Regions from separate parts of the Homo sapiens genome. Here region 2 is linked to region 1. The links come from fine-mapping of genetic effects on gene expression. Tissue or cell type: nucleus accumbens. Region 1 holds a variant in brackets; the other region holds the start of a gene. All regions are shown on one strand. Distances are from middle to middle. Region 1 overlaps PCDH10-DT (PCDH10 divergent transcript). Region 2 holds the start of PCDH10-DT (PCDH10 divergent transcript).

The links. PIP is the estimated chance that this variant, and not a neighbour inherited with it, causes the effect.
Region 2: PCDH10-DT starts here. The variant in region 1 is fine-mapped to the expression of PCDH10-DT in nucleus accumbens (GTEx, PIP above 0.99).

What each region holds. Positions count from the first base shown.
Region 1 is chr4:133,092,727-133,097,128 of GRCh38, reverse strand. It overlaps PCDH10-DT (PCDH10 divergent transcript), which reads left to right. Exons shown (of 9, transcript NR_125885.1): 8 at 246-393; 9 at 1,179-3,269. Among named protein-coding and RNA genes, the nearest start is that of PCDH10-DT, 54 kb to the left of the region's middle. The variant C/T (reference allele first, on the strand shown) is at 1,751.
Region 2 is chr4:133,147,158-133,151,559 of GRCh38, reverse strand. PCDH10-DT (PCDH10 divergent transcript) reads left to right here and starts at 2,444. Exons shown (of 9, transcript NR_125885.1): 1 at 2,444-2,531; 2 at 4,284-4,361. PCDH10 (protocadherin 10) reads right to left here and starts at 2,266. Exons shown (of 5, transcript NM_032961.3): 1 at 1-2,266. The coding sequence starts at 1,419. RefSeq lists a silencer at 2,213-2,352 and an enhancer at 2,463-2,522.

The DNA of each region.
Region 1 (4,402 bases):
AAGGAAGTAACTTTTAGCCAGGAATGTGGGTCTCATTAAGGAACTTTCCCCACAGAGGGGCAAATCATGTGTGTCTCATTAGGGGTGCTTTGTAAGACCTACCCAGCAGGATTGTATGGTTATTATTATCAGGTGTGTGTTCTGTGTTCTTTTTTCCCTTTCTTAAATGTTACTTGTCTACTATAGTTATCTTATCCCTGCTCTACCACTGACAGCATACATAAGACTGATTGTTTTTATATCAGGCTTTGCAGGACCACAACAACCACTCCCAGTCATGATGGAGAGAAGTGTTCAATACCCACAGATCCTGAACGTTGAGCTGATTATACTAACTAGATGGGACTTAGTTTTGTCTACCGTGGGGTGAGCGTATACTACCTGAGGGAACAGGTACACATGAATATTTATTATTACAATAACTGTTTTTGCAGAACTTGCTTACTGCTTACCAACATCCTGATTCTCCTCTTATTGATGTTAGAAATAGACTTTTCCTAGCTATTCTTGCTTTTTTGTGTGGACATTTCCTGAGGTCTAACCAATGAAGTATGAACACAGTGGATATATATCATTTCTAGACTTGACTCATTAAAAACTCCCATGTATGGTCCTTTAAGCTTTATTTGCTCCCTGTCTAGTGGAATGGAGAAGACTGTCAGGGAAGTCTTGGATGGCATAGGGTGAAGATGGCAGAGTATCTGTTGGCCATTTGGAGGAGAATTGTTCTCTGATCTGTTTACTCTTGTAAACAAGAAATACATTTCCATTATGTGCTATTTCATATTTTGAGTCCATTTGTTGCAGTAGCTAGTTGATCTTGCCTAATAAAAACAAGATTATTGAAGAAGTAACCGTAAGCACATGTATTAATAAATTCATCCTGAATGAAACATCATTTACTTCTAGCTTCACATTATTGTTTGTAATCAATTTTACAATAATACTTGTATAACTATGTGGTCCTAATTCAATGTCTAAATCACCAAATTATTTTTTATGGTGAAAACAGTAAGTTTTAAGTGAAATAATTAAATTCAGCATGAAAAGAGCTAAATTAAAAGAATATTTCTGGCTTATGTCATGATCTATTAAAGTGCATTTTATATAATCAGAAATCTGTCCTACTCCTTTCCTTTGGCTTAGATTTTCTCTATGTTGATTTCTTTTCTGCACAGGTTCTCTATGGTGAAGATGGCAACTTGCTGACTCAGTCTCAGAATGCGTTAAATCCACATATTCTGGCAAGTGGAGTTCTGCTTCTCCAATATCTCTTCCAGACTAAGTCTCGAAAGGACAGTAATTGATCCACCCTGAGTCATATGCCCATGTCCAAAGCAATGAGTTTGGGAAATTTCATGACACACTCCTAATTTTGTGGTAGGAGACACATCAGAACCACACAATGAGTCAGTCCTATTTATGAAATAGAGGTTCATCTATCAGATGAAAGGGAAAAAAGTTGTAAAAACAAAACAGATGTTCACTAATGGGGATCTATCTGAATTTCACCTGTAACTACAAATGCTCACAAGTAGATTTACAGTTTTCCTAGAGTGTCATGAATTTAAAAACATATGCATGGAATCATAAAGTAATATCCTAATCACCTCTCACAACCTTTCTCTCCTTAACATAAAATGAGAATATTTTAGCAGCAGGAGAAGGATTTTCATTTATAGACCTTTATCAGACACTAATGTAGGATTGAGTTTGACCTGATACAGTGTTCTATCTCTGAGTGTTGTCA[C/T]TCAGTTTTATCATAAATAAAATTTATTTTATATGATATCATATAGAGAACAAATTTACTTATTTTTCTCATGTAATCATGTAATCAATTGTTCCAACATAATCCATTGAATAGATATTGTGGCATTTCCCTAATTATTTATAAAGGCACTGTTACTAGATATGAATATTTATATATGAGGATATGAATCGTGGCTCTCTGATTTGTTCATTATTTGCTTGTCTATTCCTGTGCCAGTATCATACAATTGGTACTAATATAGTGTTCTGATATTGACAGGATGAAGTGCTCCTTCTAATGATGTAGCTTTAAATTTGTCTTGGTTGTGCATTTCTTTTTATTCTTCCATAGAGATTTGTGGTTCAGTTGTCAGCTTTGAAAATCACTTTTGGGATTTGAATTTGAATTGCATGAAATTTGTAGACTAACTTGTAGAAAATAGACATTTTTATGATATGAATTTACACATCCTTGTAACCATGGGTGTGTTATTTATTTTCACTTTTGAATATTATTGTGGGTATTTAGTAATAAAAATAACAATCGACGAGTTACATGGTGGTTACTATGTGACAGATGTTGTCAAAGTTCCATCCATATATCAACTTATTATATATTCTTATGGGAAGAGACCGTTATTATCTCCATTACACAAGTAAGAAAATCGAGGTACAAAGAGCTTAAGTAACATGTGCTAAGTCATATAAGAGTAAAGCTTTATTTGAATCCATGCAGTTTGTCTCCAGAGCTTGAAATCCATTTTATTTTATTTTATTTTTGCTTTTTAAAAAAAATTTTTTTGAGACGGAATCTCGCTTTGTTGCCCAGGCTGGAGTGCAGTGGCACAATCGCGGCTCATTGCAACCTCCACCTCCTGGGTTCAAGCAATTCTCCTGCCTCAGCCTCCCGAGTAGCTGGGACTACAGGTGGGCACCACCACGCCCAGCTAATTTTTTGTATTTTTAGTAGAGAATGGGGTTTCACCATGTTAGCCAGGATGGTCTCGATCTCATGACCTCATGTTCCACCTGCCTCGGTCTCCCAAAGTGCTGGGATTACAGGCGTGAGCCACTGCATCCAGCCTGAAATATTTACCAGTATCTGATATTGCCTCACTAAGAACTTTGCCCAACTCCTTAGTGATTCTACCATTGGCTTAGTATTTTGGATTTTCTAGTAGACAATAATATCGTGTGCATAAAGCAAATACAATTATTATTACAATAAAATTTTTAAACTACTCATTTGTACTTGCTTTCATAAAGCCTTAGCTAATTCCAACAAAATATTGATTACTGTGGGAGAGAGTGGTAAATCTTATTTTGTACCTAATATTAAATAAAATGCTACTAAATATAAGTGAGATGCTTGCTATAAGTTTTAGTAGTTAAACACTATAAAGTTATTTCTTGTCTATTTTCAAGAATTTTTTATTATTTTAAATGCATGTGCAATTTTTTTAAAAAGTATTGTTTTGCATCTAATGTTAAATAAAATGCTTCTAAGTATTAGTACTAAATATCAGTGAGAGGCTTGTTGTAAGTTTTAGTAGTTAAACACTATAAAGTTATTTATTTTCTATTTTCAAGAGTTTATATTATTATAAATGCATGTACAATTAAAAAAGTCTTATTTGCTCTTCTTTTCTAATGTTAAAACATTTGTGCTTTCCTGAGATGAATGCTGTGCTCTCATGAAAGATTGCAGAGTCAAAAAGTAGCCTCTGGAGTTAAGACTTTCTGGTTTTAGAGCCTCCTATGGCCACTTACTAATTATGGGTCTTAGGAGAGTTACTGAACCTTCATAATGGGTACCAATCCTAGATCCTGTCAAAAGGGATCCTTCTCTTGGCGATGACTTTGGAAGATCCTTTGCATGACAATAAAAAAAAAAGTATTATTAGATCTAATTTATTAGATAACACTTGGGTGTCTCTAAGTGTTATGGTGGTAAACGTTCAACAGGCTCTCAAAAATGCATATATGTATATGTTTATATAGATACATATACACTCAAATGTGTATATATGTATATATACACACTAATATGTTTATCATAAATTTTATTGATATAAAGGTTGTGTAACACAAGTTACAAATAATAATAAAATATTCAATATTATTTATTGTAAATTCTGTATAGCCGATTGCTTTTCATAGAATGCTTTCATTGACTTTTGCTGAACTCCTGTATATGGAGCCAGCTTACAAGTGTATTCACTAACAAGTGTAGTCCTGGCATGAATGTTGGTTGATATTTTCATTTACATTAATAAGACAGTGAAATAACACAGACATGTATTTGAACTTCACTTGTTCATCAGTGATGTGAGCAACTTCTTTGCCGAATTAGATAATAGGTTTAGAATAATGGAATAATATTTTCTCATTTTTTTTTCTACTAGCAAGGTAATAGCTACAGACAAGACACATTTTTAGGCTTAATGCACGTTATTAACATTTTCTCTATGACTTTTTAAAGTCTAGACAACAAAACAGTAAATGAAACCCTGATCTATAGTATTCGCCCTGTTTTTTTATGTAAATTCTCCCAACATGGCTAATTTCAAGCTTCTAGTGTGGGAGGACATGCACAGTGCACACCATTATATGGTAGCCCCATCTCACAGGTGAGATGAGATAAATAATCTCA
Region 2 (4,402 bases), 54 kb before region 1:
AGTCACATACACGTCGTAGACCGGCTGGCTGAAACGCGGCGCGTTGTCGTTCACATCCGACACTTGTACCTGGATCGACTTACTGGTGGAGAGCGCAGGCTCGCCCCGGTCCCGAGCCACTACAGTCAGGGTGTAGGAGTCCCCCGCCTCTCGGTCCAGGGGGGCTTCGGTAACGATGGTGTAGTAATTCTTAAAGGAAGACTTGAGGCGGAAAGGCACGTCTCCCAGTAGCTCGCACTGCACCTGCCCATTCTCCTCTGAGTCGCGGTCAGTCACGCTGAAAAGGGCCACCACAGTGCCGGGCGCCGCGCCCTCACTCACCGCTTCCTTCACGGTGCTGAAGCTGATCTCTGGCGCGTTGTCATTAGCATCCAGTACTCGCACTAGCACCTTGCAGTGCGCAGGCACGGCGTTGGGGCCCAGGTCCTTGGCTTGCACGTACACTTGGTACACTGGGCTCTCTTCATAGTCCAACTCGCCGCTTACCTCCAGTCTGCCAGTGCGCGGCGAGAGTCCGAAAAGCTCCCGCGCCCGGGGCGAAATGTGGCTGCTGAAGGAGTACACGACCTCACCGTTCTGGCCCTCGTCCGGGTCGGTGGCGTTGAGCTGGATCACGAGAGTGCCTGGGGGAGAGTTCTCTGGTAGGGACACAGTGTAGACGGGTTGGTCGAAAGCGGGCACATTGTCATTGGAGTCCAGCACTCGGATGGTGAGTAGGGCCGTGCCGGTGCGCTGCTGCTGGGGGGGCAGGCCTGCTCCCCCGCCACCTCCCCCTCCTTCTCCTACTCCTCCCCCACCTCCTCCGTCCACCGCGGTCAGCACGTAGCGGTGCACCGCTTGCTGCTCTCGGTCCAGTGGCTTCTCCAGCACCAGCTCAGCGAATCGGTTGCCATCCCCCTGGGTCTGCACGTCCAGGGAGAAGTAGCTGTTGGGGGTGATCTCGTAGTCGCGCAAGGAGTTGGTGCCCACGTCTGGGTCGAATGCGCTCTCCAAGGGGAAGCGAGTGCCTGGCGTGGCGCTCTCAGAGATTTCCACCGTCAGGTCTGGCTCCGGGAAAGAGGGGGGGTTGTCATTAATGTCCAGCACCTCGATCTCCACCTGGAACAGCTCCAGGGGGTTCTCCAGAAAGACCTCCAGGTGCAGGACACAGGAGGGGCTCTGTTTGCAGATTTGTTCGCGGTCTATTTTCTCGTTCACGTACAGCACCCCTGTCTCCAGGTTGAGGTCTAAGTAAGGGGTCCTTGAGTTGGGCACCGTCTGAAACCCGCGAGCCGAAAGTTTTGTAATGTCCAGACCCAGATCTTCAGCGATATTCCCCACGAAAGTGCCATGTTCCTGCTCCTCCTGTACCGTGTAGTGAAGCTGGGAAAAGACTCCTTCCACCATCCAGAGCAAGGCAAACAATAATAGCACAATCATCTCCAAAAGGAAAGGAAGTAGCTTCCCGCAGCCAGTCAGCCACCCAATCACCTCCCCCACCACCACGAAACAAAAAAAAATCTGAAAAAATACAAATAAAAGTGCGCTACGTGGGGGCTCCTGTGGCTTTCTGTCTTTAAAAATCTTACTCCTTTTGCTTCATTTTAGAGCTTCCCGCAATCCAGCCTCATTTTTTTTTAAATCTTAGCACAGGAAGGGTGACAGGCGTCCCCTTTCCTCATCTGTAATCTTTCCACTGACTAATTAATAAAATAACAATAATACAATAGTCAGCGTCCTTTATTCCGACAGTCTTGGCGCTGGCAAATCCCAAAGAGGAAATTTCGATATTTCAAGACTGTCCTCGGTTTGTCTTCTTGCTGATGGGAGGAGAACGAGGAGGAGGAAAAAGAGGAGGAGGAGGAGGAAGAAGAAGAAGAGGAAGAGGAGAAGGAAAAGGAGATGCTGTTGGCACCGTTAAACATGCCTCTTAATGTCAACGGCTGGCAAATGCAAAAGGGCTTAAAATCAGCGATATAATTTTGTGCCGGAAAAGCACAGAACGGCTCTGCAGCTTAAAACTTTCATTCTCTTCATTTCTCCGGATGGATGTTCTTCTTGACATTTTTTTCCTCTTTCGCTCTATTTGTATTTTTTGTCTTTCAGAGTCTTGGTTCCCTCTGTCCTCATCTCCACCGTTACTTGCCTCTCTGTAAGTGTAATGAGCAGTTTCTTTTCTGCTGTTTTCTTCCCAAGCCTCTTTCCCTCTAACCTGTCTCTTTTTCCTTCCAGTCCTTCCTTCCTCCTGCTTCAGCCTCTGAGCCTGTGGTCTGGGCTGGCAGTTTCTGAGCTCCGAGCGCTCGGCTTCTCCGTTTTTGCGCAGCGCCCTCATTCTGCCAACCAATCGCCCAGGAGCACCACCCACCGAGCTGCCGATGATTGGCCAAACTGGCCGCCAAACAGACACGTCACGCGGCAGCCGGGCGGGGCGGGACAGAACTCTCGCCCGAGCGGCCGGGGTGAGTGTGAGTGTGAGAGCGAGAACAGCCCCGCAGGTCCCGAGGCGCTGGCTGGGGACAATGCCGCGGAAAGTTCCCAGTCCCCAGCCGCAGGTAATGGGGAGGGAATAGAGAGGTTCCCCTGTTTGCATCAGCAAATGCGAAAACATAATAGCAACAGCTGCGATATCCTCTCCTAGGAGCGGGATTTCCAATGATGCTAACATTCTTTTTCCTTTAAGGTATTTTCCCTAATACGCATCATGGAAATAAATCATCGAGAAGGGAAAAAGTAGCGCAGGGCCCACTAATTGGCAAGGGTTACCTAATTAAGGGACCCTAGCAGAGACTGGCAGGGCATTTTAAAAGTGAGTATTATATGGCATGTGTCAATCTAAAGGTGAGGGGGTCTGACGGGGCCGTGAGGAAAGGCGCGAAGCATACGGAGTAGGGGGTGGAGGTGACTCCTAAAAAGCGGAGGAATTCACGCTAAAGGATGTGGGGATGACAGCGCTTACAGACGGGCAGACGCGTTCGACGTGCTTCTTTCCTCCCAAAATACATATTCACAAAATACTTACCAAGTAGATTAACTCACTCGAGGACCTAGCTTCGAGCCGTGAGCGCGTTCATCAGTGACTGAGGAGTTGATTTGAGCCGCTTCCTACAAGCCCGCCATCCTAACGCCGGGCTCTGGGGCATCCGGCACACAGCACCGCCAAGCGCTGCAAAGCGCCTCTGATATCCCTGCGCCTTGTGCGGCCAAGTGCCACGCAGCGGCTGGGAACACCGGCTATTTTCTATTTTTTTTTTGGCAATTGGAGATCGATCCCTTTACCCACCATGCTAGATTAGACCACTGATTTCTGCCAATCCTGGGGTCAGCCCGCGGGATGAGGACAGTGGGGCGGCGGCGAACGCGGGCGGGGTGGTGGGCAGGGCCCGTGCACACGAGGGGCCCGAGTGTGCACCGCTGCGGGTATCTGCGAACACGTTTGCACATGCACGGTACTTGCATCCATCCTCCCTGGCCCAGGGCTTAGCTCTGTGTAAGCCCCAACGGAGCCTCCCCGAGTTCCGAAGGACGCGCTTGACCAGCTGTGAGTGCCCCTTCCGGAGGCGCAGGGGCAACGCGGCACATCCACATAGCTAGTTCTTGTGAAGTTAAAACACAGCGCGAACTCTTTAATGCTGGAGAGTGGATAGAATGCCAGTTCTCTAAGGAAAGATCTATAAATATATATTTTTAATTAATGGGCCACTAGCAAGGAATTGGTTGTTTATTCACGAAAGAAGCCCCTATTCAATCTCCTTTTTATGCAAAGAGATAGGAAGGTCCTTTGCTGCTTTCTGGTAATGAATGACCCAAGAATACACCACCACAACCTGCGGGAAAAGTAGAGTCGTTTTCCGACCTGGAGATACGTTGCCATTTCCTCCTGGCAAGGAGTTAAGGAGGGCTAGTGTCCATGGGCGTGATAGTAGCCTGAGACGTGCTTCTGAGAGTCCCGCGAATGCACGTCTACTGCCCTGATTTCCGCGCCCCAACTCCCCGCAACGCCGGGTCCCCCCGGCCCCCGCACTTGGCTCTTTCATGAAGATGGGTCCTGCCTTTGAGCGCTTAGAAGGAAAGGATTCCAGCAAAAATGGCTAATCCTTTTCCAGCTGCAGTAAATTGAAGACTGGCCAAAGCCAAGCGAAAACCGCTGCAGTTAAAATGATTTTAGCATCACGTCTGCGGCTGAGAATGGAGCGGCAGTGTATAAAGGGACCTGTGGATCAATGAAAAGGAGATTATAGTGTATCTGAATATTAATACGGTATTGCATCTGTACTTCCACCCCTCCCCCCTTTCTTTTTCTTCAGATCTGCAGAATTGAAATGAAATGTTTTGAGCTCTTCAAGCTGACTCGTCAGAATCCTGGAGCCTTTTAAAAAATGACGGTAATTTTCTAATGCGTTCATTTGTACGTATGGAAACACTT